Linked DNA regions of Homo sapiens. The protein of the gene in region 2 purifies or fractionates together with the protein of the main gene of each other region. This does not show direct contact. Each region holds a gene or a part of one and is shown on either strand. Other genes may lie near its edges.

Region 1 (7,155 bases), on a different chromosome or scaffold from region 2:
GAATTGATTCCATGCGGACATGAATGAGTCCTTAAACCTAGAACATCATGTACATCATCCTCCTTAATAATAGTATTGATTATTTGGTTCTATGCTGGGGACCGGAGGGGATGAGATGGTTTCCACCAGAATGCTCACTGAGCTCTATTACCCTTCCCTGTTCCCTGTATTTTTTTTTTTTTTCTGAGACAGTCTTGCTCTGTCGCCCAGGTGGGAGTGCAGTGGCACGATCTCAGCTCACTGCAAACTCCACCTCCCAGGTTCAAGCAATTCTTCTGCCTCAGCCTCCCGAGTAGCTGGGACTACAGGTGTGTGCTGCCATGCCCAGCTAATTTTTGTATTTTTAGTAGAGACGGGGTTTCACTATCTTGGCCAGGATGGTCTTGATCTCCTGACCTCGTGATCCGCCCGCCTCTGCCTCCCCAAGTGCTGGGATTACAGGCGTGAGCCACCATGCCCAGCCCCCTATATTTCTTTTTTTTGAGACAGGGTCTCGCTCTGTCCAGGCTGGAGTGCAGTGGCGTGATCTTGGCTCATTGAAACCTCAACCTCATGGGTTCAGGCGATTCTCCTGCCTCAGCCTCCTTTGTAGCTGCGATTACAGGCATGTGCCACCACACCTGTCTAGTTTTTTGTATTTTTAGTAGAGACAAGGTTTCACCATGTTGGCCAAGCTGGTCTCAAACTCCTGACCTCAAGTGATCCATCTGCCTCAGCCTCCCAAAACGCTGGGATTACAAGCATGAGCCACCGCACCTGGCCCCTTCCCTGTATTTCTAAGAACTCTCTTTTCCCCTGCTTTCTCTGGATTTTGGAGCCCACCAAGGTATGGACACTAATCCTCTTCTGATTTTAAGGTTTGGCAAACCTAGCAGCTCTGTAGGATTCATGCCGTGGCGGAGGTGTACCTAAGTTGGAGTGTATGTGGGTTCTGAGAGAGGATAAATATGGAGATGCTGAGGGAAGAGCTCCAGGATCTCTCTTCTAGACATCTCAGTTTCTCCTCCTCGTTCCTGTTTTCATCAGGTCTGGGATCTGCCGATATGGGGGATATGAAGACCCCTGATTTTGATGACCTCCTTGCTGCCTTTGACATCCCTGACATTGATGCGAATGAAGCCATCCATTCTGGGCCAGAAGAAAATGAGGGGCCTGGAGGCCCAGGGAAGCCAGAACCAGGTGTAGGAAGTGAATCTGAAGACACAGCAGCAGCCTCTGCTGGGGATGGCCCTGGAGTTCCAGCCCAGGCCTCTGACCATGGCCTGCCACCGCCAGACATTTCTGTAGTCAGTGTCATTGTCAAGAACACTGTGTGTCCCGAGCAGTCTGAGGCCCTGGCTGGAGGCTCAGCAGGAGACGGGGCCCAGGCTGCTGGGGTAACTAAAGAAGGGCCTGTGGGGCCTCATCGAATGCAGAATGGTTTTGGGAGCCCTGAACCTTCCCTCCCAGGAACTCCCCACTCTCCTGCTCCTCCCAGTGGGGGCACCTGGAAAGAAAAAGGCATGGAAGGCAAAACTCCCTTGGACCTGTTTGCTCATTTTGGCCCTGAGCCAGGGGACCACTCAGATCCGCTGCCTCCCTCTGCACCCTCTCCCACTCGGGAGGGGGCTCTGACCCCGCCTCCTTTCCCCTCTTCCTTTGAGCTGGCCCAGGAGAATGGCCCAGGCATGCAGCCACCTGTTTCTTCCCCACCATTGGGGGCCTTGAAGCAGGAGAGCTGCAGCCCCCATCATCCCCAGGTCCTAGCCCAACAAGGCTCAGGCTCCAGCCCTAAGGCCACGGACATCCCTGCCAGTGCCTCGCCTCCCCCAGTTGCTGGGGTGCCCTTCTTCAAGCAGTCTCCAGGGCACCAGAGCCCTCTTGCCTCCCCCAAAGTGCCCGTCTGTCAGCCCTTGAAGGAAGAAGATGATGATGAGGGGCCAGTGGACAAGTCTTCCCCAGGAAGTCCCCAGAGTCCCTCTAGTGGGGCCGAGGCTGCAGATGAGGACAGCAATGACTCCCCTGCCTCCAGCTCCTCTAGGCCTCTTAAGGTGCGGATCAAGACCATTAAAACATCCTGCGGGAATATCACAAGGACTGTAACTCAGGTCCCCTCAGATCCTGATCCACCTGCCCCCTTGGCTGAGGGGGCCTTCTTGGCTGAGGCTAGCCTCTTGAAGCTGTCCCCTGCAACACCTACTTCTGAGGGTCCAAAGGTGGTGAGCGTACAGTTGGGTGATGGTACAAGGCTGAAAGGCACTGTGCTGCCTGTGGCCACCATCCAGAACGCCAGTACTGCCATGCTGATGGCAGCCAGTGTGGCTCGCAAGGCTGTGGTGCTGCCTGGGGGGACTGCCACCAGCCCTAAGATGATTGCTAAGAACGTGCTAGGCCTGGTGCCCCAAGCCCTGCCTAAGGCTGACGGGCGGGCAGGGCTGGGGACTGGGGGACAGAAGGTGAATGGTGCCTCGGTGGTGATGGTGCAACCTTCAAAGACAGCTACTGGGCCAAGTACAGGGGGCGGCACAGTGATATCACGGACCCAGTCCAGCCTGGTGGAGGCCTTCAACAAGATCCTCAACAGCAAGAACCTGCTCCCTGCCTATAGGCCAAACCTGAGCCCACCAGCTGAGGCTGGGCTGGCCCTGCCTCCCACCGGCTACCGCTGCCTGGAGTGTGGGGATGCCTTCTCATTGGAGAAGAGCCTGGCACGGCACTATGACCGTCGGAGCATGCGCATCGAGGTCACCTGCAACCACTGCGCCCGCCGCCTGGTCTTCTTCAACAAGTGCAGCCTGCTCCTGCATGCACGTGAACACAAGGACAAGGGGCTCGTCATGCAGTGCTCACATTTGGTCATGAGGCCTGTAGCCCTTGACCAGATGGTGGGGCAGCCGGACATCACACCGCTGCTGCCTGTAGCTGTCCCACCTGTCTCTGGACCTCTGGCCTTGCCTGCCTTGGGCAAGGGTGAGGGGGCCATCACCTCCTCTGCCATTACTACAGTTGCTGCTGAGGCCCCTGTCCTGCCGCTCTCCACAGAGCCGCCTGCTGCCCCGGCCACCTCTGCTTACACATGCTTTCGCTGCCTGGAGTGCAAGGAACAGTGCCGGGACAAGGCTGGCATGGCAGCTCACTTCCAGCAGCTCGGCCCCCCTGCCCCTGGGGCCACCAGCAATGTGAGTCACCTTTCACAGCCCTTCTGTGGGGACAGGATCTAGGAAGGCGTTGGGGGCTTGGTTAGAAGTAATGGAGACAGGACACTCCTCACCGACTTTCCTTGTTTAACCCACTCGACAGGTGTGCCCAACCTGCCCCATGATGCTCCCCAATCGCTGCAGCTTCAGCGCCCACCAGCGCATGCATAAGAATCGACCCCCCCATGTCTGTCCTGAGTGTGGGGGCAACTTCCTGCAAGCCAATTTTCAGACCCATCTCCGGGAGGCCTGTCTGCACGTCTCTCGCCGTGTAGGATACAGGTGCCTCGGACCCTTCCTCCATAGAACTGTAGGGTTTCGTGTGTCCTAGCCTCAGCCTCAGATGGCCTTTCAAGATCCCCTATCTTCCCTGCTATATCCCTCAGCCCTGTTGTTTTGCCAGACTCAACCCTGAGATAGTACGTCCTGCCTTCCCGTCGTCCCCCATGGAGATGGGGGGAAGCAGGGCCACCTCTGGAGCTCCAGCTCTCCCTTGGCAGCCTCCCTTGGGGCACAGCCTCTGCACCTCTCTCCTTTCTCCACCCTGCTCATGCTCCACTACTGATTTCCTTCTTGTAGTCTACCCAGTCCCAGAGAATAAATGTATGGTCCCGGGGTGGGCATGGAGATGCCTCCCACCTCACCACAGGGCCTCCTGCTTCCTCCCTAGGTGCCCCAGCTGTTCAGTGGTGTTTGGGGGTGTGAACTCCATCAAGTCCCACATCCAGACGTCGCACTGCGAGGTTTTCCACAAGTGCCCCATCTGCCCCATGGCCTTCAAGTCTGGGCCAAGTGCCCATGCCCACCTCTACTCCCAGCATCCCAGCTTCCAAACTCAGCAGGCCAAGTGAGGCCCGGGGGAGGGCCGGGCTGGGCCAGGGAGGGCTGGTGGGGCGCAGGAGGGGAGGGGCTGCACCCAACCCTGCCTGATGTCTGCACTGTCCTCACTTCAGGCTGATCTACAAGTGCGCCATGTGCGACACAGTCTTCACTCACAAACCCCTCCTCTCCTCACACTTCGACCAGCACTTGCTGCCCCAGCGTGTCAGTGTCTTTAAGTGCCCGTCTTGTCCTCTGCTCTTTGCCCAAAAAAGGACCATGCTGGAACATCTCAAGGTACAGGAGCAGAGGGATGGGGAATGGGTGCTTAGCTGTACTGACCTGGGGCTGGGGCCACATACTTCAGAAGTGGGGGGCTTTGGCATAGCCAGGCCCTCCCCCACAACAGCAACCTCCCTTGTCTCCTCTCACAGAACACCCATCAGTCTGGGCGCTTGGAGGAGACTGCTGGGAAAGGGGCCGGGGGTGCCCTGCTGACCCCCAAGACTGAGCCTGAGGAGCTGGCTGTTTCTCAGGGAGGGGCAGCCCCTGCTACTGAGGAGTCGTCTTCATCTTCAGAAGAGGAGGAAGTACCCAGCTCCCCTGAGCCCCCCCGTCCAGCCAAACGGCCTCGGCGGGAACTAGGGAGCAAAGGCCTCAAGGGTGGGGGTGGGGGGCCTGGAGGCTGGACCTGTGGCCTGTGTCACTCCTGGTTCCCTGAGCGTGATGAATACGTGGCCCACATGAAGAAGGAGCATGGCAAGGTGAGTGGGCCCCAAGGGGAGTACCATGGGCTGGGGGCAGCATTGGGACTGCCAGTGTGACAGTGGGGACGGGGTCCTGGAGCCTGGCTCTGACATCTACCCCTGCTCTCCTAGTCAGTGAAAAAGTTCCCCTGTCGCCTGTGTGAGCGCTCCTTCTGCTCCGCCCCCAGCCTGAGGCGCCATGTCAGAGTTAATCACGAGGGCATCAAGCGAGTTTACCCCTGCAGGTAAGTCTTGCTCCCCGCTTCCTCTTCCTGCCCAGCACGTGACTCTCCCTGTATGCCAAAGTACCTGTGCACCTGCGACGTGTCTAAGTGGCCTGATGGTTGGGGTCTCCCTCTGCTCTGGCAGCCCCCTCCTCAGAAGCAAGGGCCCTGGCCTTCGGGCTGTGCCGCTGCTGCCATCCTGTCCTCTCCCATTTCAGGTATTGCACAGAGGGAAAACGCACCTTCAGCAGCCGCCTGATCCTAGAGAAACATGTCCAGGTCCGGCACGGCTTGCAGCTTGGGGCCCAGTCCCCTGGCCGGGGGACCACCTTGGCTCGGGGTTCCAGTGCCAGAGCCCAGGTAGGCAGAGGCCCGGCCTGCTGTGCTAGGGCTTTGAGTGGGAAACTGGAAGGCAGAGACCATGGCCTCAGGAAGCGAGCATGGGGGTGCCAGGGACAGTAGGGGTGGTGGTAAGGCCCAGTTTCTTCCACTTTTCTTCAGGGGCCAGGTCGGAAACGCCGCCAGTCTTCTGACTCTTGCAGTGAGGAGCCTGACAGCACGACACCGCCAGCCAAGTCCCCCAGGGGCGGACCTGGATCTGGAGGCCATGGCCCTCTGCGCTACCGGAGCAGCAGCTCCACAGAACAGAGCCTCATGATGGGGTTGAGGGTGGAGGATGGTGCCCAGCAGTGCCTCGACTGTGGCTTGTGCTTTGCCTCCCCTGGCTCCCTGAGCCGACACCGTTTCATCAGCCACAAGAAGAGACGGGGTGTGGGTAAAGCCAGTGCCCTGGGGCTGGGGGATGGGGAGGAAGAGGCCCCTCCATCAAGGTCTGACCCCGATGGTGGAGACTCACCCCTGCCTGCTTCTGGAGGCCCACTGACCTGTAAGGTCTGTGGCAAGAGCTGCGACAGCCCTCTAAACCTCAAGACCCACTTCCGCACGCATGGCATGGCGTTCATCAGGGCTCGGCAGGGGGCTGTTGGGGACAACTAGTCTCCAAGGCCTGGGACTGACCAGCCCCTTCCTCTTGGAGCCTGGTTTTCCCTACTGCTGCCTGATCCCTCGGCTGGGGAGTTTTCATTAACATTAATATTTTGTTAATTCCTGTCTCTCCAACCTGAAGAAGAAGAGCATTTGAGGATTATTCTAGTTATTTGCAACCTCCCTTTGGGTTTGGCCCTGGAGTCCTAGTAGAGTGGACCCTCCATTCCTCCTTTCTGAGCCCAACACTAATTAATTTTATGCTCCTGCTGCAGAACCCCCAGTGTGGGCCTGGGGGTGGGAGGATGGGACTTAGGTATGCCTGCTAGACAGGTTCAGGGAAGGACTGATGGGGGTGTCATGGATGGACACACCTCTCCACAATTCCTTCAGGCATGGACTGGAACTTTCCTCCTCTAGGCCGGGCCCTGCCCTAGTGCCCACCCCCGCCCCCGCCCCCGCCCAACCCCAACTCACTGGCACTCAAGCCCCCTACCCCTGCAGTGCCTTTCACTTCTTTTTTTCCCCAGAAATCCGGGGCGGGGGGGTGGGGGGTTGGTAGGGATGAGTCCTGTCAAGGGGGCCACAGGAGAGGAGGGGACAGGCTCTCAGGAATCCTTTATTCTTGTAGTAATAATAATACTAACAAACAGTTGGGGAACTAGGGAGAAAACCAGACCATTAAAACTGTTTGTGGTCGAATCTCCATTCAGGCCTCTCTTTTTCTGTGACTTGGACAATGTGGAGTTGAAGCGGGTGAGAGAACATGGAAGGCCCGCCCTTCTCAGGGAAGAGGTGGTAGTGACCAAGACAGGCAGGGAAAAAGCAAACTTCTATGTAGTGCCTTTTGTATCTTGGACACTGAGGCATCCGTTCATACCTCATCACCCATCTCCCCCTGCACTCCCCCAGAAAACCTGGAAATGACACAAGTGGCTAACTAAGGACTTTATTTCAAACAAAAATTAAAAATAAAAAATTGAGAGCTCTTTTCCCTGGGTTTGGGGAAGGAGTCAGGGTAGGGAATTCCACATGGCTAGGCCAGTACCCTCAGTACACTGGAGGGCTGTGGGAATTCCCTTCCTTGCCCATGATGGGGAACCTCAGCAAGTGCAGGGCCCACGCAGCGCCCGCCAGCAAGGGGAGCTTGGGCCAGGGGTCGGTCCCTGGGAGGGGTAGGTCCCTGGGAGGGGTAGAGCTGGGCAG
Region 2 (7,951 bases):
TATTGCAAGGACAGAAAACCAAACACTGCATATTATCACTCATAGGTGGGAATTGAACAATGAGAACACTTGGACACAGGGTGGGGAACATCACACACCGGGGCCTATCATGAGGTTGGGGGAGGGGGGAGGGGGGAGGGATAGCATTAGGAGATATACCTAATGTGTAAATGACGAGTTAATGGGTGCAGCACACCAACATGGCACAAGTATACATATGTAACAAACCTGCACATTGTGCACATGTACCCTAGAACTTAAAGTATAATAATAATAATAAAAAAAAGAAAGTGAGTTCACACTTGTTCAGAGAGTACAGGCTTTTGAGACAAACTTTCTGGGTTCGAATCATGGGTCTATTACTTTCTGTACCATTTTGGCCAAGTGACAGTCTCTCTTTGCCTCAGTTTCCTATTGAGTAACACGAAGGTCATAAATGCAATTACCTCATGGGGTTCTTATGACAACTAAAAGATGTGACACACTGGATGTTGTTTATAAAAGTGGCTGGTACATCAGGAGCAGTAAATAAGTGAAAGCTATCATTAATTATAATGATAAAACCTACCTTTCTGCAAAACAAAAATGTCTGAACTTCCGCTAAACTCCTTGCTACCTGAGAAATCATTCCCAAAGAATCTATGATTCCTTGATATTATGGAGAAAAACCTCAGGGTTTTTTGCAGATGTTTTCCCATAGAACTGTATTAGAAAAGATTCAACTATCTTTGGGGGTAGTGAAGTTTATTGTCAATTACAGAAATGCTCTGTCATGGACCAATTTATCCTATATTTTAAAGTGCAAAAAAGGTGATATATGAAGCATAGCCAAAATGTATTTCCTCTGCAAATAAAATATGCCAGTACAGATACACTGTTGTTTTTGTAAGATAATTTGAGGTTTATTTTATTCAAATGAACAAATATTGTTAAGAATCTACCCAAATCTAGCCGGGCGCAGTGGCTCATGCCTGTAATCCCAGCACTTTGGGAGGCTGAGGCGGGCGGATCACCTGAGGTCGGGAATTCGAGACCAGCCTGACCAACGTGGGGAAACCCCTTCTCTACTAAAAATACAAAAATTAGCCGTGTGTGGTGGCCAGTGTCTGTAGTCCCAGCTACACGGGAGGCTGAGGCAGGAGAATTGCTTGAACCTGGGAGGCAGAGGTTGCAGTGAGCCAAGATCATGCCACTGCACTCCAGCCTGGGCGACAGAGTGAGACTCCATAACAACAACAACAACAACAACAACAACAACAACAACAAAGAATCTACCCAAACCTGAGCCCCATGCTATGATGAATAAATGCAAAAGAAGCTGCAACTATGCTCCCATCCCATGAGATGATGCTGGAATGCTGGGATGATGAGACTGACACATATAAATCAACTAGTCCCTAAGAGGAGAAGCACAATTAAGTGCTAAACTGCATGGTGCAGCTCATAAAAGAGTTGCAGGAATTCAGGTGAGGAAGATTAAGGAGCCATAGGCTACTTAGGAAAGATGCACTCAGGAGAAGGGAGAAAGAATTTACCAGTTACTTTATGTATGACTTTGGTAAAGTTAGTTAGCCTCTCAGTGTTACTGTTTCCTCTTTTATGAAATTTGACACTTTAATGCATGTAAAATGCCTAGCACATTTTAAAGCAAGACAGGTTTTTGGTAAGTCTTAGAGAATGTGTAACATCTACCCAGAAAGAGAATTCCCAGATAGCAGGATAACCTGTGTCATGTAAAAGAAACAGGTATCCTTTTTAAGCCTTTTTAGATACAAAAAGGTGAACAAAAAATCCACAAGTAATAGTCCTACTATAATAAGTACAATATTCTGTGTTGAATAGCAACCACAGCTTTGCCTGTATGGCAAAATAACTCCCTGAGCACGTGAGCCTTGGTGCATGTTGACATTCCTAGAGAGTTCCTCCTTCCAAGCAAAGATTCTTTCTTTAAAAAAAAATAGGACATAAAGTATGCATATTTGCTTTTCCCTCTAAAATCCTTGCCCTTTACTGACCCTTCTCCTGAGCACTTGTCCGAAAGCAATCATAACCTGAGCTTTCCATCACCTACAAGGAATAGTTATAATCACAATCACTTCTCTAATGTAATTTTCTTCTAATACACAGAGAACATGAGATACATTACTTCTAATTTTAAATCACGTTCTCTATATATTCAAATATTCCTTATCACAGCTTTATACATGTTCGACAAGAAGAGAAGGAAGAGTTCCTTTAAAGAGTCTCAACGTTATTTGGGGGAAATTACATTCAGCAGAGTCCTGATTATACTTACATGATCCTAATTAGAGTTTTCCTAGCATTACTGGTAAGAGTGTTAATTACATTAATTACATAATGGCTTCTTTGACAAATAAAGCCATATATTCTAAGATTGGTCCAAGCCTGACACTCCTTTCTGCTTAAAAAAAAATAGGAGACATATTGGAATAATAGAAGTTTCCACTTTAGGCCGAATGAAATTATACCAGTTCAAAATAGAAGATGATTTCATGGCAATTAGAAACAGTCTTTGTGGAAAGTTCCAATATTCCTTTTTATTTACACCAAAAGTAATTCCAGCCATGCATCACAGGCTCCATCACTTGTAGAGAGAAATGCATTATATATTTCTGTAGACAGAAACGAAGTAAAGCCTGAAATGATTACCTTGACTTTTTCAGAAAGGAGAGAATTGGAAATACAGTGCTGGTAGTCCGAGGCTTTGATATGTAAACTCACCTAAATATGCTGGTCTTTTCAGAGTTCGTTTGTCATACAGTGTGACCACACAAACTTAAATTATTTGTAAAATAAAATTGTTTTCTCTGTGTTTTTCCTATCCTTTTAGAGCCTTTGAAACATATATAGAAATTCATTCTCCTGAGTAGGAAACTGTTACTATATAGAATAGAGCAGCCCTCTGGTTTGCCAGTGGCAGATAGGAAGGAGAGCAGAGTGACAACCCATATGCCCCTTACTTCTCTTCCGCAAGGAGCAAGTTGCAAGCAAGAGAAACTGTTTTCTGCTCATTTGCTCCTTTATTTAACATTTTAATAATCTATGGGATACTGTGTAAGGTAGTGTGCTAGGCACTCGATAAACAGAGGGAAACGAAACCATGATCATGTCCTCTTGCAGTTTACAGTCTCCTCAGATATCGTTTGTGGTATGTTTAGGCTTTAATTTTGTCTTTCTGTGCATTTGCCTAAGTATATTTCTGGTCTTGATATTGAAAGACAGATTCAAGCTGTAATACATCACAGCTGTTGGGCAGGAACTCACGGGAAGCCATGAGCAAGGTAGAAGGGGCTGCTATTAGAAACAACTTGAGGCACCCATAGATGCAACCAAACCTTAATCCAAGGTGTATTCATTTCATATTGCTTCTGTAACAAATTACCACAAATTTAATAGCTTAAAATGCACAAATTTATTTTCTTATAGTGCTGGAGTTTAGAGGTAATAACCTCAAGGTGTTGTCATTCCTTTGGAGGCTCTAGGATTGAATCTATTTCCTTACCTTTCAAGCTTCTAGAGGCTGCCTTTATTCCTACGATCCTGGCTCCTTCCTCCATCTTCAAAGCCAGCAACATAGCGATTTCCCTTTCCTCCCTCCCACACCTATTCTCCACCATTCCTTCCCTCTCTCTGTGCTTTCGTCCTCTTATCTTCTCTGACTGACCCTCCTGCCTCCTTCTTATAAGAAATTTGTAATTCCATAGGGCCCACCTGTATAATCCAGAATCATCTTCTCATCTCCAAATCTTTAACTTAATCATATCTGCGAAGTCCCTTTGGCCGCATAACTAAGACAGGTACATCTTTGAGGGCCATCAGGCTACTACCACACAAAGCAAATTAAGTAGAAAATAACGTTTGCCTCTTTTATACCTTGAGTCCACCAGCTGCATGTTGCCCTTTGCAAGTTTGTTTTCTACTTCAAGGCCATCTTAGTTGTCCATTTTAACTAGCCTTTCCTCACAAAATGGTGGTATGTGGCTCCCCCCACTGATATTTCTCTGAGGCCTTGTAGCTCTCTAAGACAGCACCAGTTTAACTCACAAGTCAACAAACTGGAACACTTCAACCAGAGACATTGACATCCCCCTCTAATGAACTCAGCTGATTGCTAAAGACAGATGCTTCGTTAGAGCCAAACATTCCTATCTTACATAACTAAATATGATAATAAATTAAGTTCTTGGGGCTGGAAATAGTTATAATTTCCTCTTTCTTGCAGTGAAAAGGCATGGAACATTTAGCAAACTGATCCTGGCTTAATTTCTACCGATACTATGCAGCACAAACTCTTATTTGATGCAGATTATAAATCGAAAATTAGCAATGAATACTATGCATCGCTTTAGTGGTAAGAGGCTGCTGAGTAGCTTTTTTTCCCCAGTAACCGTAGAGGCAAGAATTGATATTTTTATGTCACTTTTACTAAGAAGGGGGGAAACATTTTGCTATTAATCTTAAAGAGAAGTCTTTTGCTGCTAGTTACGTGGAGTAACAGGGAATAGATTTACCTTCCTGCCTCAAAAAAGTGAAGACCAGAAAAACATTTGTTTTCAGACACTGGAGAGCAGGCACTGTTACGGCTGTGATTTTACAACTGCTCCTACATGCTGGGAGCAGTCGCTAGATGCATCTCAAGGTGGGTCGTCCGCGCTTCCAGACTCAGCACAATCGACATTTATTTACGTAGGTAAAATTACTGTTGCTATGGGTAAATTCACAGAAATAAAGCCCAGAGAATCCGGTTGGCTGGCAGGGAGCGGCGGAACCAATCCCGGGCTCAGCAAGTTCTCGCGATACCGTGAGATCTCCAGTCCTGACGACACCGCCGCTGAAATGTTAGTGAGACTGTAGGGTGGGCGGTGCGAGCGGCGGTTAGCTCCCAGTTCGGCCTCTGAGGAAAACGGGCGTTCGCCTGCGGTTGGTCCGACTGTTAGCAACATGAGCGGCCTGGATGGGGTCAAGAGGACCACTCCCCTCCAAACCCACAGCATCATTATTTCTGACCAAGTCCCGAGCGACCAGGACGCACACCAGTACCTGAGGCTCCGCGACCAAAGCGAGGCGACACAGGTGATGGCGGAGCCGGGTGAGGGAGGCTCGGAGACCGTCGCGCTCCCGCCTCCACCGCCTTCAGAGGAGGGGGGCGTACCCCAGGATGCCGCGGGCCGTGGCGGTACTCCCCAGATCCGAGTTGTTGGGGGTCGCGGTCATGTGGCGATCAAAGCCGGGCAGGAAGAGGGCCAGCCTCCCGCCGAAGGCCTGGCAGCCGCTTCTGTGGTGATGGCAGCCGACCGCAGCCTGAAAAAGGGCGTTCAGGGTGGAGAGAAGGCCCTAGAAATCTGTGGCGCCCAGAGATCCGCGTCTGAGCTGACGGCGGGGGCGGAGGCTGAGGCGGAGGAGGTGAAGACAGGAAAGTGCGCCACCGTCTCAGCAGCCGTGGCTGAGAGGGAGAGCGCTGAGGTGGTGAAGGAAGGCCTGGCGGAGAAGGAGGTAATGGAGGAGCAGATGGAGGTAGAGGAGCAGCCGCCAGAAGGTGAAGAAATAGAAGTGGCGGAGGAGGATAGATTGGAGGAGGAGGCGAGGGAGGAAGAAGGGCCCTGGCCTTTGCATGAGGCTCTCCGCATGGACCCTCTGGAGGCCATCCAGCTGGAACTGGACACTGTGAATGCTCAGGCCGACAGGGCCTTCCAACAGCTGGAGCACAAGTTTGGGCGGATGCGTCGACACTACCTGGAGCGGAGGAACTACATCATTCAGAATATCCCGGGCTTCTGGATGACTGCTTTTCGAAACCACCCCCAGTTGTCCGCCATGATTAGGGGCCAAGATGCAGAGATGTTAAGGTACATAACCAATTTAGAGGTGAAGGAACTCAGACACCCTAGAACCGGTTGCAAGTTCAAGTTCTTCTTTAGAAGAAACCCCTACTTCAGAAACAAGCTGATTGTCAAGGAATATGAGGTAAGATCCTCCGGCCGAGTGGTGTCTCTTTCTACTCCAATTATATGGCGCAGGGGGCATGAACCCCAGTCCTTCATTCGCAGAAACCAAGACCTCATCTGCAGCTTCTTCACTTGGTTTTCAGACCACAGCCTTCCAGAGTCCGACAAAATTGCTGAGATTATTAAAGAGGATCTGTGGCCAAATCCACTGCAATACTACCTGTTGCGTGAAGGAGTCCGTAGAGCCCGACGTCGCCCGCTAAGGGAGCCTGTAGAGATCCCCAGGCCCTTTGGGTTCCAGTCTGGTTAACATTTGCCCTTGGGAATACTCCTGCACAAGGTCTCCTACCACCTTCTGCTGGACCTGTGCTTGGGCATCAGCAATGAGTATGCCTTCTATTGTGCTTTGTTTTTGCTGACTTTTCTGCACCCTGTTTCCTTTGGATATTCAGTTCTCTCAACCTCAAGATTGAGACGGTGGTGGGTATGCTTCTCCACTTCCATATGACCTTCATGCTGTTCTGGAATATCACATGCTACGAGGTCATCCTTCACACTACTTGTAAGCCAAGCAAATGATACTGTAGATTGTACTGCCTTTATCTGCACTGCTTGGACCCTGTTTATTCCCAGGGCCTCTGAACTGGTTGCTGTCACTTGGATTTCTAGCTTTGGGAGCCTGTTCCACCTACTCAGCTCTGCATTGAGCAGTATGGGCACATGCCCTGTGGACAGTTACTGGACGTTAATGAACTCAGAGGAGAAAAGCAGTGAGCCACTTGTTCTGTGTGATTTATGGTACTTCATTGCTCTTCCTTCACCTCTAGTCACTTTCTATTGCTACCTGCCCTACATTGGCTCCTGCCAAGGTCCCTCTCTCTCCCTGTTTTCCTTTTTTTTTTTTTTTTTTTTTTTTTTGAGACGGAGGACGGAGTCTTGCTCTGTCGCCCAGGTTGGAGTGCAGTGGCGCGATCTCGGCTCACTGCAACCTCCACCTCCCGGGTTCAAGCGATTCTCCTGCCTCAGCCTCCCGAGTAGCTGGGACTACAGGCGCGCGCCGCCACGCCCGGCTAATTTTTATATTTTTAGTAGAGACGGGGTTTCACCATGCTGGCCAGGCTGGTCTCGAACCCCGATCTCGTGATCCGCCCTCCTTAGCCTCCCAATCCTCTCTTAAAAAAGTGATAGCTCAGAAACATTTGTAAAAGCAAGGTTTTTATTTCATTTTGGCTCTGTCATTTTCAGAGGCAAAGAAGTTGGCCTGTAAAATAGAGTGCTAGAGCTCTTACGCCCCTCCCCTTCTTCCCAACTTCCTACTTCCTAGCCCTTTTATCAACTCCTAGAATAGTTAAAGAGAGACACATCTAGATGGGATGAAAGGTGCCCTAAGCAGGAGAAACTGAACAAAAGGCTAGAGGCATGGGCCAGGTAAAAATTGGGCCTAGAGTGAAGACTGTGCTGTCGTTAAGAGCTTTCGAGGAAGGAGTACTTACTCCCCAATGATGATGAATGGAAAAATACTTTTCAGGGAGAATTGAAGGGGTTAAAGTGTTAAATATGTTGCCTAGACAAGGGTTCTTTAAAGAAAGACAGCGCAACTTTGAATGCTTTCTTACTTGTTTTGTGACCTAATTTATGTGGAAGATTGTTATTTCATTAGGATTTAGTAAAATTTTTTTTTCTGATTCTAAACTTATTGTGAAAATTGAGCTGTACAGATATTCTTTTGATTTCAATTGGGAACATTTGGAAGAACAACAGTCTTACTTGCCTGTACAATATAGAGACATATGAATAGTCATAACAGTTTTCAACTTGTTCTTGTTTCTGTTAAACTATATTCCTAGAAACATAGTTTGAACAACTTGGTCTTTGTTAGGCTTGTCAAATTGCCTTCATGGAAAAATAATCTACAAAAGTATGGTTTAATTGATTGTCTTACATGATAATTTTCCCTGGTAACAACTTAGTAAGTGATATATCTT
Region 3 (6,910 bases), about 92 Mb from region 2:
GTAAGTTTTCTAGAACTGAACCTGGATGTGCATCTGGCACAGTGTGATGCTGGATTCTGTGTCCTCATTAGTCTAACGAGTCTACTCTGTTGCCCACATCACCTCCCATTAGGACCACTATGCCCTTTTAAAAAGTGGTCTTTATAAGATGTAAGTATTATGACACCCTTCTGCATACAACTATTCAATGGCTTTTGATTAGCCTTAGGATAAAAATCCCGTCCTGCCGCACCGACTTGTCCATCTTGTGGGTAGCCACTTGTTACTACCTCTCTCAGTGTCCTTCCCAGACATGCTGCTTCCACTCCTCTCCCCTCAGATCCCCGTTTTGCTTAGTTACTTCCTCCTCATCTTTCAGGTCTCAAAGTAGTTGTCCCTTCACTGAATGCACCGACAACCTGGCCCAGTAAAGTTACTTTGTCGTCTGCGCCCAAATAATCCTACCCTTCCATCTGCTACATTCCTTAAATCTGCAATCCCTTGTTCAAAGCCTGCAAAAGAGCATGAGCTCCTTGAAGCAAAGACAGTATTAGTCATTTTTAATGTAAAGTATAAAAGAAAAGGAAATACATGTGTTCATTCATCTCACAAATACGTTTTTTTATTGCCTGTTATATACCAAGCACTGCTTTAGGCCCATTTAGCAGTGAGTCTGCCCTTGCGTAGGTTATATTGTAGTGGAGGAGAGAGTTCATAAACAAACAAAGTATGTTAAGTGCTAAGTGCCTCAGAGAAAAATAAAGCCAGAGAAGCGGATAGAGAATGTTAGGCAGTAGGATGTGTGGCATTTTAGAGATAGGGTGGTCAAGGAAGATGTAAGGCGGTAACACCCTGGTGGAGGCAGGAAGATCTGGGGGAGAGTGTTCTAAGTAGAGGGAACCACAGAAGTAAAGATTGAGGCAGGAACGATCTGAGCTTGTTCATGAAATGGCAAGAAGGTTGGAATGGTTAGAAGAGCATGAGTCAGGTGGAAAATGAGGTCCCAGATGCAGATAAGTATGATCATGTCAGTGACGTAGAGCGTGGTAGGGGTTTGGATTTCTAAGTGGGATAGGAACCCACTGGAGGTTTGAACTCAAATCTAGATCATTGGAAAGTTCAGAAGCAAGCAGAATACCTTGTGCAACATAATCCAGCCATTGACATTCTCAAAAGATACATCCAAAGACCTTTACAGATTCCCTAAGTGTGACTACAGGACTTTCTCTACAAGTCCCTGTCTTTTCTCTAAATACATAATCATGTTTATGTATATATACTCAATCTACAAGCTAACTCCATTTTATACTTTGATATTTTTCTCTCACTTAATTGCCAACTTTTCAAAACAATGGAAGATTTTTCAAATTCCTTTCTTATAGTTTTAGTATGTGCAATCCTAGGTACAGCACAGCCCATTTGTAATGAGATAAGAGTGGTAGGTGGTAGTGAGCTACGCTTGCTCAGTAGTAGGCTGAAAAGATTCAAATTAATGTCTTATCAGAATTACAAATTACACATCTTTGTAGGTGTCCTGAAGAATAGTTGAAAACATTAAATCCATGGATGTCAAATGTCTTTATTTCGATATAGTTAAAATTAATATTTGCCATGGTGAATCTGAGATAGGAAAAATATTTTAAGATAATTTCAGACTTCTGGAAAAGTTCCAAGAATAGTCAAAGAATTTCCATTTTCTTAAACCAGATTCCAAATATCAACATTTTATCACATTTGCTTTATCATTTCTTTGCTAGCATACTTTATTCTCTAAATTATTTGAGACTAAGAACAAATGTGATGTTCCTTTACTCCTAAATGTCTTAATACGTATTTCCTAAAACATGGACATCCTCTTACATAACCACAGTGCAGCTATCAAAATCAGGAAGTTAATACTGAAGTTATTTTCCAATCTAAAGACCCTACTCAGATTTTGCCACTTATCTCAGTAGTGCTTTTTATCACAAAGAAAATCTTAGATCACATATTGCATATAGGACTGGGGGTTGTGGTTCACACCTGTAATCCCAGCACTTTGGTAGGCCAAGGTGGGCAGATCACTTTAGGCCAGGAGTTCGAGACCAGCCTGACCAACATGGTGAAACCCCATCTCTACTAAAAATACAAAAATTAGCTGGGCATGGTGCCGCACACCTGTAATCCCAGCTACTCAGGGGGGCCGAGGCACAAGAATCGCTTGAATCAGGTAGACGGAGGTTGCAGTGAGCCAAGATTGAGCCACTGGACTCCATCCTGGGTGAAGAGCAAGACTCCATCTCAACAACAACAAAAAGAGGAGGCAGATTTCTGTTCAATAAGTGACATGCATTTCCATCAGTGATAGCTGATCAGTTGTGTAACAGGCTATCTTTGAGGAAGTGAGCTCTCAATCATTGGAGCCAATGATAACAGCATAGCTATAAATGGGATTCCTTCCTTGTGAGAGATTAAATTTAAATTCTGTGATTCTGTACATTAACTAAAAACAGTGTGCTGCAAAATATTACCACTCTGAAAATGACGGTGAGGAAGAATGTTTTTCTAAGTCTGAGGTTCCCAAACTTCCTTGGATCACGATGCCCTTAGTGTCTTAGTAATTTTTTCACAGTATCGGAAGACAAAAAATTTATTATGTTACAGATTCCTTTATGTTATTTCCCTTGCAACTTTAAAATATTCTGAGGTGCTATCGTGCCCAGCATAGCACCAGACATTCAGCTCACAGTTTGAGAACTGTGGATATAAGCAAAGACCTTAAATTGCGTGTCCTCTGGCATCATGACTTAAGATTTGCACGCATGTAAACAAAGGCTGCAAAGAAACACAAAGTAAAAGCAGTACATTTGGCATATAGATGATTTTAAAATATTTAAAACCTTTTAAATCATGTTCTTCTCCTGCTTTATTCTGTGGGTGCTATCAAGGCCCTTGTTTTTCTTAGTTCCTTTCTACAGGAAAGAGCTGTACAAATAACATAAGGCTTTCAAACTCTGGGGCAGTAACAATTCAAGGAATCTTCTAAGGAACCTGGCGTTTTGCGATGGAAATGAACTGTGTTCTCTTTTAGGACCATAGAATTTTTTGGCTGATTACAGGAATTATGTTCATGGGAAGTGGCCTCATCTGGAGGCGCCTGCTTTCATTCCTTGGACGACAGCTAGAAGCTCCATTGCCTCCTATGGTATGAAGGATATGGTTCACGGCGGTATTGTGGAAGGGTTATGATCATGGGCCCTAAAGTCAGAGCGCCTGGGATTAAGTTGTCACAGGCACTATGGCCCTTGCGAGTTGCTTTCTCAAACTTCCTTCAGTTTCCCTATCTGTCAGTTAAGTCGGTATTACCTGCTTCATAGGGTTATGGGAAGAATTAAACAATATGTGTAAAGCACTTACTAGCACACTGCCTAACACAATAAGTTAGAAATATAATTTGTGTAGAACTCTGACAACATACATTTAAACAGATGTTAGTAATTCTGGTATAAGGTTTGTCATAACCAAATGGAAATGTAGGAAACATTTATAACGTTCTTAAAAGATAGAAAATTCACCTCCATTTTCTTTGTACTTGAAGATGGCACCACTGGAATAAATACTTAAGACACTGATACTGCTTATAGTCCTTTCTTCACTGAGTAGTTACATAATACATCATTTTACTAGTGGCTTTTCTTTTAAAAAAGATACTAAAATTAATACTTCTGCTTTATTTAGATGGCTTCTTTACCTAAAAAGACTCTTCTGGCAGATAGAAGCATGGAATTGAAAAATAGCCTCAGACTGGATGGACTTGGATCAGGAAGGAGCATCCTAACAAACCGTTAGGAACAGCCCCGTGGATACTGAAGTTTTTTTTATGGTAGTTACAGGAAACTTCTGATACTCTTTTTATTATTTTCTTGTATAGAGTCAGACACTTGAAAAAAACTAATGTTTGAAGACAAAAATATTTTGGCAGTCACAATACCAGAACTGGATTGCATTTCCAGAATTCTGAGTTAAAGAAACAAAGTATTTGCTTTGTAAAAGGCCAAAATTCTATTTCCTACAAACTTTAAATGCTGTTTTTATAGATGTGATATGAGGCAACACAAGCACAGACAGTTGCATAGATTTTAATTTATACATATCAAGAAAAGTGCAATTTCATGCTGAATGAAGCGTAGGAACTTGACAAGCCCATAGGTAGCTATAGTTCTTTGTCAGTATAGGGAATTATGTTCATGTGAATTTCCTGATTCTCAGGTGACTAAAAAGCTAGCATTCTATGTATTAACCTTACAACAGACTCTGTAAGTTTGAGCTTTAAAAACCAAACTTTGACATAACCTTATTTCTTGTATTTGCCCCCTTTTTTTTATAAAAGGTGAATAAAAAGAAATAATTTAATATCACCATTGTATGGATTCCTAATCAAGATTTCACGTTCTCAGCCCCTGAGACTAGTTTTCTTTGCTCTCTGTAATTAGAGCCTTTGGAAGCAAAGTTGAAAGGAAGTATTTCCATTCTGTTACTGTTTTGTAGCACTTTGTCCATTTATTGATTTTTAAAGTAGATATTTAGATACCACCCCTGCCCTGCCCCAAAAAGAAAAATGTTTATTGTCCTGCTAATCTATATGCCTACACCTCAGAAGCTGACAGATGAGCTTCCTAAAACATGAGGATGAATAAATGTTAGAACTGTGATATCTTCTCATTTCCACAGAGATTTGGGTTTAAAACAAATGGCTAATATTTGTAAGCCTGAAAGCTGCCATCCTCTTTAACATCCTACCTACCTTTTAAAATATTTTCTGGAGGTTAAGTACAGTTAGGCACTAGAACATTTGTTAAGCCTCCCAAAGTAGTGTGCATGGAAGATTCTAGAGTGTCCAGCTCTTGCACTACAAATGTAATAATAACAGAATAAATACACTTACCCTGATGATATTGAGGGTACATGATTAGCCTAATGTGATGTCATATGAGGAAGTTTAGGAGTCCATTTTTCAGGTGGTTTGGTGATAGGAATAAAAATGTTACTCCCGTCGCTGATTTGGAAGAAAACCGATGAAGTACAAGTAAGGTTTCCCCACTCCTGTGTGTGGTCATGGGAAGCCATTAGAGGGAAGCTGCAGAACAGAATGGAACAGGACAGGCTGGGCTAGACTCGAGCACGCAGTGGCCCCTGTGCCACCACACTGTGGGTCAGGAACACGCGTCATGGTGTTCTTGTCGGAATGTGAACATACAGCACCCTCTAGCATTACGAATCTCTTAGGATTTTTAAGATTGTATTTGATAATACTTATATTTCACAGGGCACACTTTTGGCACACCTCAGAGCACACTGCTGCTATTTTGGGTCGTATCACTGTAAAATACATAATAAGTACTACTTAACTGTGACATGAAGAATTGGAATCCCAGAGGGCAACATTTGATTTGACTAAGATCAGGCATAAGATAGAATTTTTGTCATTTTTCCTTGCAGTTTTATTGACTTAGTTTATGAGCTTGGATAAAATAATTTTTTGATGAATCATGTCAATAAAAGGAAAAATAATGTAACTACCTCATAAGTCTGATAAAAGGAAGTTGCTAGTGTTTTATAGAATTTCTGAAGGTGGTTAAATCAAGTATGATTTCAAAATATCAACTAGTTCCACTTTTGTGATTGCAGGATGCTTCTTATACTAAAGTTCTCATAAATAATAAATCAGCTTATGCCAAAAATATATGAAGTTCCTTGGTTTTAAATTTTGAACTAAAATGGACTGAGCACATTAATTACTGTTTGAAAGTAGGTACCAAACACTGGGTTATGTGAGTGAGTAAGCAATCATATCGCCTGTCAAACACATCAAGTGTCGAACACGTCAAGGTGTGATACTGTCTTTGGAAGGCTCCTAAACAAATGTGAGCACAATTATTAACACCTTATTCTTCATGAACACAGACTGTTAAGCAGCACTAACCAATTTTATATTAAAAAGCTATTTATTTTGGTGAGTTATTCCAAGAGTTGTATACAGCTTTATTTTTTGGAATTGCAATATTAAAGTTGCACGTTGGATTTAACTCTCATGACTTTAGTAATACCTACAGAGGTGAGCTAATGGATGGTACATGGAGTAGGGACTGCAGAGACCCTAGTTTTGTCCCCACTCCATCTTCAAATAATTTTGGTCTCTTAGGTCTGTGATACAAAGGCATAAAACAATTCCTATCTTGAAGCCTTGAGAAAAGCTGTTACATATACGCAGATAGTAGCAAGACAGAAAATGCAAATATGTAAATGTCTTCTGATATCTTGAAATAAAGATAAATTTCAGTTAAACTTGTATAAGTTCAGATTTCTGTTAATGAGAAATTACAACCCTACAAGGTAAGGTCTTTACATTTTAGTTATTAAGCAGAATCAATGCTTAAAACTATAGTTAATACTTAGTGGAAAGAAAATTTAATCCATGTATCAGGATAATATATTAGACTGTCATGCATTAATTTTTTCCTGTATGCCAGGTTTTTTACATACGTGCCATATCAGTTGACCTTTTACAGTAGGAGTATAATTTACATTGTTTTTGACATTGGGGTTAGTATGGTTAAATGTCCTATAAACTTGAAGCTTGCTTCCATTTTTGTGGGTCTTAACCTCCACCTGGTGCTTGCTATTGGGTGTATTCAGGCATTGAGAAAAATATAAATCGTGAGGTAAATAATGGTCATGTTTAAACAGAGGCCTTATCATTTAGTGAAGCATAAAAACTGACACTATATAAATGCATCCGTCTAATGAAAAGACCCAGTACTGAGAAAAACATCCCTTTACTCAAGTGTCAGATGTCAGAGTGCTCTAACTGCTCAACTCATAAGTGAATACAACTAAGTAATTTCTGGTCCCCTAAAAATAACCATCCTTTTAATTAAAAGTAATTCTTCAG
Region 4 (7,000 bases), on a different chromosome or scaffold from region 2:
AGTCTGGCTCCGGTGCCCATACTCCTAACCAAAATTTTATGCTGATATTCACTAGATGCACACACTAATATTACTGCTACTATCAATGGCAGTTAACATGAGTAAGTGCTTGCAATGTGCCAGGTGGCTTCTTAAGCTCTTTATACTTAGTAACTTATTTTACCTCAGTAAGAACCCTAAGAAGCAGGTACTCACTGCCATTTAATACATGAGAAAACTGAGATACAGAGAGATTACATGACTTGTTCAAGGTTACACAGCTGGGATTTGAGCCCAGAGAGATCTAAACTACCACACTCTTCTATTAATACTTCTCTACATCAGGGTAACCAATTACATGCTTAACTTATGCCCATTTCACAGAAAAAACTAAGACTCTAACCTGACAATATCAAGTAGCTTGGAGAGAAGGGCTACTTGACATGAGACAAAGCAAGGTTTTCTGGAGACCAAATCTCAGCAGTGTTGCAAAAGTGGGAGTAGTGGGCACTCGATGCCAGTGGTATTCTCTGATGCAAGAGCCTTGGAACCAACAATTCCTCCTCCCTCCCCCAACCTTTGCCTTAAAAATTCCCCATTCAGTGCAGGCAGATGCCTATAAATTTTCAGATGCCCCTACCTGGTAATGGATGACATGCTGGACTTTAGGAATATCCAGACCCCGAGCTGCCACATCTGTTGCCAAGAGAACACAGCTGGGGTAGAGAGAGAAAGCTTATTAATAATAACTAACAGCTATCTTTAATCAAATTCTTACCAACTGCTGAGCATCCTAAACATTACAGTCCTTACCAATACTCTGTAAGATATCACTTGTATACCCTTTTACAGAAAAACTGAGGCTCGGAGAGATTAACTTCCCAAGCTATCTACATGGCTATTCAGCTGTGGAGTCTGGATCCAAATTTGGGACTCATTGACCCCAACCAACATGCCATACTCTGCAATGATAAAGACTCCCTTCAGTGAGTTAAATGAGGCCATACATATTCTGGGTCAGTGACTCCTCTCCTAGCACCCTCTCATTTACTTCCTCCCAGTGGCACACAGACTTCCTTGCTCTTCCCCAAACAAACCAAGCATGCTCTCACCTCCAAGCCTTTGCACTTGCTACTCCTTAAGGCCTTAAAGGGTCTTGCCTCAGATGTCCATATGACTCACTTCATTACTTTCTTCAGCTCTCTGCTCAATTCTCACTTCATCAGAGACTGACCACACATACCCAATCTCTTTTCTCCAACCCCTGCTCGACTTACTTCTTAGGATCACTTGGCAGACTGTGGGCTTACTTTGCAATTTATTATCTCCCTCTACTAGAATGTAAGCTTCATGAGAGCAAGGACTTTGCATTACTCACTGCTGTTATTACCACCACAGAGAACAACATCTGGTTCATGGTAAGCACTTGATAAATGTGTTGGATGATGTTTCTCAATGTGTGGTTCATGGAAAGTCAAAAGTACTTGAGGTGCTTCAAAACATAAGACTCTGGCCCTTCAGGGTCCTCACTCCCTGCATGTCTGAGCTGAGGCCGGGAAATGCAATGCAAATCCTAGTTTGTAAAACATTAAACTACTGCTCTGGATCAAGGTCAGCAAACTTTTTCTGTAAAGAGCCAGAGAGCATTTCCAGCTTTGTGAACCACACAGTCTCTATGGCAACTATTCAACTCTGCCGCAAAAGAGGATATTGACAATACATAAATGGGTCTTGCTGTGTTCCAGTAAAACGTCTACTAAAAAAACAGGCAGCAGCCAGGTGTGATGGCATGCACTGGTAGTCCTAGCTACTTAGGAGGCTAAGGTGGGATTGCTTGAGCCCGTGAGTTCAAGTCTAACCTGGGCAACATAGCAAGACCCCATCTTAGAAAAAAAAAGGGCAGCAAGCAAGATTTGGCACGAGGCCTATAGTTTGCCAAGCCTTGTTCTAAGCTAATCTCAGTAAACCACTGATACTACTTACCAATTTTTAAAAACCAGTAAATCAAACACTTGTTCTAGAAACTAATTACCCCATGACCTGACAAAACACTGGCAAAAGACACTTTGTAGTCTGCCTCAACTTTCCAGGCCCTCATCTTGACAATCTGCACCCCATTCCCTGAGCATCAGTCTGGTCCAAAGGCAGATGGACAAAGACATCAGGAATAAGAAATAGCATGGGCTCTGAGGTCCGACAGGCTTGTCTGAGGCCCAGCTCTACCACTTCCAGGCAGAGAAACCTTGGGCACACTGATCAGCTTTTCTAGACCTCATTTTTCCATCTATAAATGAGAATAGTGATAATGGTAATAAGTAGTAAAGGGACTAGAAATTATTAAAGCTAACATTTAGCAATATATACATACTATGTGCTAGAGACTGTTCTAAACACTTTACACGCATGAATTTACAATCAATCTTCATAACAACCCTAGAATGGGTTCTATTATTATCCAAATAATGAGAAAATTAAAGTACAGAGAAATTAAATAACTTGACCACCTAAGGAGTGACAGAACTAGGATTTGATTTCAGGCATTCTGGTTCCAGGATCTGTGCTCTTAACCATGAATCTATTCTGCTTCCTCTTAAGGATGTTAGGAGAGTAACTGAATGTGATTCTGAATCTAAAGTGCCAGCACAGGACCTAATCTATTGTCTATACATTCAATATTATGTATTGTCACCTATATTCATTAGTATTGAAGTTTCTGTATGGCATTTAACTGCAACCAAATTCACTAAATGACAGTAACCTTGCCAAATGCTGTGCAAAAAAAAAAAAAGGCTACCTACTACTGAGACAAGGCCCCTATGACAGAAGGTGGCTTTTCTACCATTTCCCCACCATCCTGACCCCTTTTACCCCAGTAACTAACTAGAGGTTAAGCCTCTGGGGACAGTCCTAACTTACTCTTCCAGACGGGCAAACTGCTCCAGGTTTCTGAGCCTCTGCTTCTGGTGCATACAGGCATGCAGGGTCAAGGGCATGATATCAAGGACTTTGAGGAGCCCAGAGAGGCGTTTGATGCAGGAGATACTGTTGGCAAACACTAAGCTGCGGCCTGGATACTGCATCAGGAAGTAGTACAAGTAGAAGTCTTTCTCATCAGTCTCACAATGGATCTTGGTCTCTGTTAGCGTCTCCACCGTGGCCTCATTCCTTGTGAGGTCAATGACCTTGGGCTTGCCCCTCATGCCAATTTTCTGCATAAGGAGGTCAAGTTTGGCTGTTTTATCCATTTTCTTGGTGTGCTTCTTATGAAGGATTCGAGCAGGAGCCTGATGCACCAGGGTGAGTGTGGCAGAAAAAACAAGCGTTTGTCTCTTTGGGTTGTATTGGGAGTCATTGAGCATCTCTAGCAGCTGTGAGAGCTCAGCAAAATGGCCTTTCTCAACCATCCGGTCAGCCTCATCCACTACCAGGCACCTGCAGATCCAGAGAGACCCATATCATTGGTCAGCAGCGGGTTAAGAGGAATCATCTATAGCACACCCTACACTCATCCTAAACACACACACACACACACGTACACACCCCACTACCACCACCACCATCAGGCCCTCAACTAATCTCCCTCATGCACTCTTGGCTTTCTAAAGGCCAGGGTCTGGATGATACCACACCATAGCATTCTGCGATGAGAAGAAGGCATTGCCCACACCATGTCACCTAAGGCTCATTTCAGAAAAGGCAGTGAGGGGGAAAAGAGAAGTGCCATCTATTACCTGAGCTGCCGAAGGTTCCTCAAATGATAATGCTTTTCTTTAATTAATTCCCACAGCCGGCCTGGAGTAGCAACCACAATCTCAGGACGACGGTTCAGCATCCTCTGCTGTTTCTGCGTGGACATTCCACCAACCAAAATAGCAGTTTTAATTCCTATGGGACAGAAAACATAAGGGACACTTATTCAATCTGGGTGATCATTTTCTTACATGGCTGACACAGGCACCCCAGATTAGCAGAGACAGACATCAGCACAGTGTAATGCCCTAGAGCATTGCTAAAAGAGCAGGCCTGGCCAGACTGTTGACGCCACTCCTAGAGGGCTTACCAAGTCTTCTGTGATCTGAGCTCTACTTCTTCAGCCTCATTTCTTTTCTACTCCCTCCCCTCCAACCACACCAAAGGGGCTGAATTTGAACCCAGGTATGCTTACCTCCAAAGCTCTGGGAAAACGGAGCACTGGGGCACCATAATGCTGGGAGGAATATGACCTGCAGCTGTGCTACACCTCTCCTAGGAAGCCCTTCCATTCCCTCAGTTAGAATTATTCTGAAAGGTCCACTAATGCCCTGTTGTTTTCGTCTCTGGTGCAGAAATTCTCATAGTATCATGTGGGTAAAGGGCTTAGCAATAGTAACAACTTGGTAATTAATTGCTGCTTTCATTATAAAATTAAGATTCCCAGAGTGAAGCCCTTCCCAGAGTGAATTCCCTGAGAGAATTAAATCCTAATAGCTTAGAGCAGGGATCAGCCAACTTTTTCTGAAAGGGTCACTAGTGAACATTACTGACCTCATAGGCCAGATGGTCTCTGTCACAACTATTAACTCTACTCAACTTCACCTTTGTAGTACAAAACCAACCACAGACAATATAAAACCAAATGGGTGTGGGTGTGTTCCGGCAAAACTTTATTTATAAAACCAGACAGTTTGCTAATCCCTGCCCTGAGCATCTACTGTATCCAATAAATTTCCTATGCATCCACAATGGCACCAACCATGTATTATCCTTGAGGGAACTGAAAAAATGTCACTATATCAATTTTCTGTAGGGCTTAATTGTCTGGCTTATAGATGAGAGTGGCTTACCCTAGAGGGCAGGAGCCACAGCTCATTCATCTTTACCAACGAGCATTTGGGATTTACCTAGAAAATATTTATTAAATGGAACTAAACCTCACCTGTAAACCTGGCCACAGCATCAATGTGCTGTTTGACCTGGACGGCCAGCTCTCGAGTGGGAGTCAGAACCAGTCCAAGCAGAGGACGCTTTGGATATGCCTTACAGGTGGCGCTTTTGTCATCCAACTCCTGTTTTAGATTTCCAGTCTGCTCTTTATCAAGATTTTCCTCCTCATTCTCATTCTGTTTGGGAACAGGTTTCTCCCTGATCAGGGAAGAAGGCCCTTCACCAGCATCATCGTCACCAAAGAGCAACGCCTGGTCTGAGACAGTGCCTCCAGTCTTGGCTCTGGCCTCGGCTGCAATATCACTGGGCAGTGCTTCACTCTCAATTACAGTATCGTCAGGCAATGCATCAGACTCAGCTTCAGCCTTGCCTGGTGATCTAGTCTCAGCTCCGGCCTCAGTTCTGGTCTCTCCAGGTGGTGCTTCGGTGTTACTTGGAGGAGGGGCAGCATTCCTCTTCTGCCACTGCAACACCGCATGAATCATTGGGATGGCAAAGGCAAGAGTTTTCCCACTTCCTTAAAAGTAAAAAAACAAAACAAAGTAAAAACAGTGTGAATCAACAGATGAACATACTTTAGTCTGGAATTCATTCTTTTGCATAGAATAAGGTAGCCAAGTGCCACCCTGACCGACCCAAAGCTCCTCCACTCTACACAGATTTCCCCAGAAGGAACCAGAAGGCACATGTAAATTAGAACCCGAGGAAAAGTATGGCAGGCTAGCACTGAGGTCTTAGGTCACCAGTAACGAATTACAAATGTCCAAGAAATGAAACAATAAAGAGAGAAAGGGCAAGTTTTGGGTGTATGTGTTGTTTCTGTGAGGAGCAGGAAACAGTAATCCATACAATACTTTCCCAAGACTTTTCTTTGGTGAGAAAGGAGTAAAAGAAAATTTTCTTAAGTTTTCAGAAAATGTAAATATAAAACTTTTGTCTATGCCTGAACATTTTCAAACTGGCCTTTGAATGTACACAGAGTCCAAATCATCTGGGTGGTCAAAACAAAACATCTCAGGCTGAGAATTTAAAGAAGTTCCAAAGTGATAATGCCCTAGGCAGAAGCCAATAAATGCTTTCTCAAGGGAGAAACCATTACCATACATCTCCAAAAATTTTCACAATTTTCAAAGGAAATAAGCAGCTCTCAGTAAAAAATAACCACACACACAAAAATAAGATACTATAAGGAAAAAAGAGAGCAAAAACAGACACATGAAACTTTTGATAAGAAGAACAGCAGACTTATCAGAAACAATGAAAAGCCAGAAGACAGTGTAGCAATATTTTTTATTTGAATGCCTAAAAATAAAACCCTGACAATCTATAACCCTACACCCACTCAAAACAAAATGTGAAATAAAGACTTTAGGCATATAAAAGCTGAAATAATTCACCAGCAGCAAATGTAAGCTATCAGAAATATTAGTCTTTCATGCAATAGCAAAGATAACATAAAATGAAAATCTGGATGTACCCAAAGAAATAAAGAGCAACCGAAACAGTAACTACGTAGGTAAATATTTAAAAACTTCTTTTTATGGCCAGGCATGGTGGCTCATGCCTGTAATCCCAACACTTGGGGAGGTCTAGGCGGGAGGATCAAGACCAGCCTGGGCAACATAGTGAGACTCCCATCTTTAAAAAAATTTGCCAGGCATGGTGGCACACTCCTGTAGTCTTCGAAACTTGGGAGGCTGAGGCAGGAGGATTGCTTGAGCATGGGAGTTTGAGGCTGCAGTGAGCCATGATCGTGCCACTGCACTCCAGCATGGGTGACAGAGGGAGATACTGTCTCTAAAAACAAACAAAAAAACAAAACCCCTTATTTTTCTTATTTAAACATCTTTAAAAATAATTGTTTAAAGCAAATATAATAAAAATGTATTCTAGAATCTCTAACACATATGAAGTATACAACAAAAAGCACAAAGGAGGGGAGAAATGGAAAATACTCTTGTAAGGTTCTTACATTGTATGCGAAGTAGTAAATTACTTGAGGGTAAACTATAATAAAAGATATATACTATAAACCCCAAAGCAATCACTAAAAAGACGTTAAGAATTATAGCTAATAAGACAACAAAAAAGATAAAAT

What was found.
Region 1: the proteins of TSPYL1 (region 2) and ZNF687 purify together in Homo sapiens (affinity purification with mass spectrometry; 3 studies listed by BioGRID and IntAct, with this or other methods). This does not show direct contact.
Region 3: the proteins of TSPYL1 (region 2) and MRS2 purify together in Homo sapiens (affinity purification with mass spectrometry; 2 studies listed by BioGRID and IntAct, with this or other methods). This does not show direct contact.
Region 4: the proteins of TSPYL1 (region 2) and DDX24 purify together in Homo sapiens (affinity purification with mass spectrometry; 4 studies listed by BioGRID and IntAct, with this or other methods). This does not show direct contact.

The regions. Positions count from the first base shown.
Region 1 is NC_000001.11:151,285,249-151,292,403, forward strand, and holds the end of ZNF687 (zinc finger protein 687), read left to right. Parts: exon of another isoform or gene 1-826; intron 827-1,026; coding exon of another isoform or gene 1,027-1,043; coding exon 1,044-3,158; intron 3,159-3,279; coding exon 3,280-3,458; intron 3,459-3,846; coding exon 3,847-4,023; intron 4,024-4,129; coding exon 4,130-4,292; intron 4,293-4,429; coding exon 4,430-4,759; intron 4,760-4,873; coding exon 4,874-4,986; intron 4,987-5,183; coding exon 5,184-5,325; intron 5,326-5,466; coding exon 5,467-5,961; 3' UTR 5,962-6,928; downstream 6,929-7,155. UniProt on the Homo sapiens protein: May be involved in transcriptional regulation.
Region 2 is NC_000006.12:116,276,842-116,284,792, reverse strand, and holds the start of TSPYL1 (testis-specific Y-encoded-like protein 1), read left to right. Parts: upstream 1-4,862; 5' UTR 4,863-4,962; coding exon 4,963-6,276; 3' UTR 6,277-7,951.
Region 3 is NC_000006.12:24,419,888-24,426,797, forward strand, and holds the end of MRS2 (magnesium transporter MRS2 homolog, mitochondrial isoform b precursor), read left to right. Parts: intron 1-3,049; coding exon 3,050-3,163; coding exon of another isoform or gene 3,164-3,169; exon of another isoform or gene 3,170-3,590; intron 3,591-3,696; coding exon 3,697-3,807; 3' UTR 3,808-6,303; downstream 6,304-6,910. UniProt on the Homo sapiens protein: Magnesium transporter that mediates the influx of magnesium into the mitochondrial matrix and regulates magnesium metabolism. Also permeable to calcium, sodium and potassium ions.
Region 4 is NC_000014.9:94,057,203-94,064,202, forward strand, and holds part of DDX24 (ATP-dependent RNA helicase DDX24), read right to left. Parts: intron 5,420-7,000; coding exon 4,895-5,419; intron 3,865-4,894; coding exon 3,711-3,864; intron 3,412-3,710; coding exon 2,896-3,411; intron 696-2,895; coding exon 620-695; intron 1-619. UniProt on the Homo sapiens protein: ATP-dependent RNA helicase that plays a role in various aspects of RNA metabolism including pre-mRNA splicing and is thereby involved in different biological processes such as cell cycle regulation or innate immunity.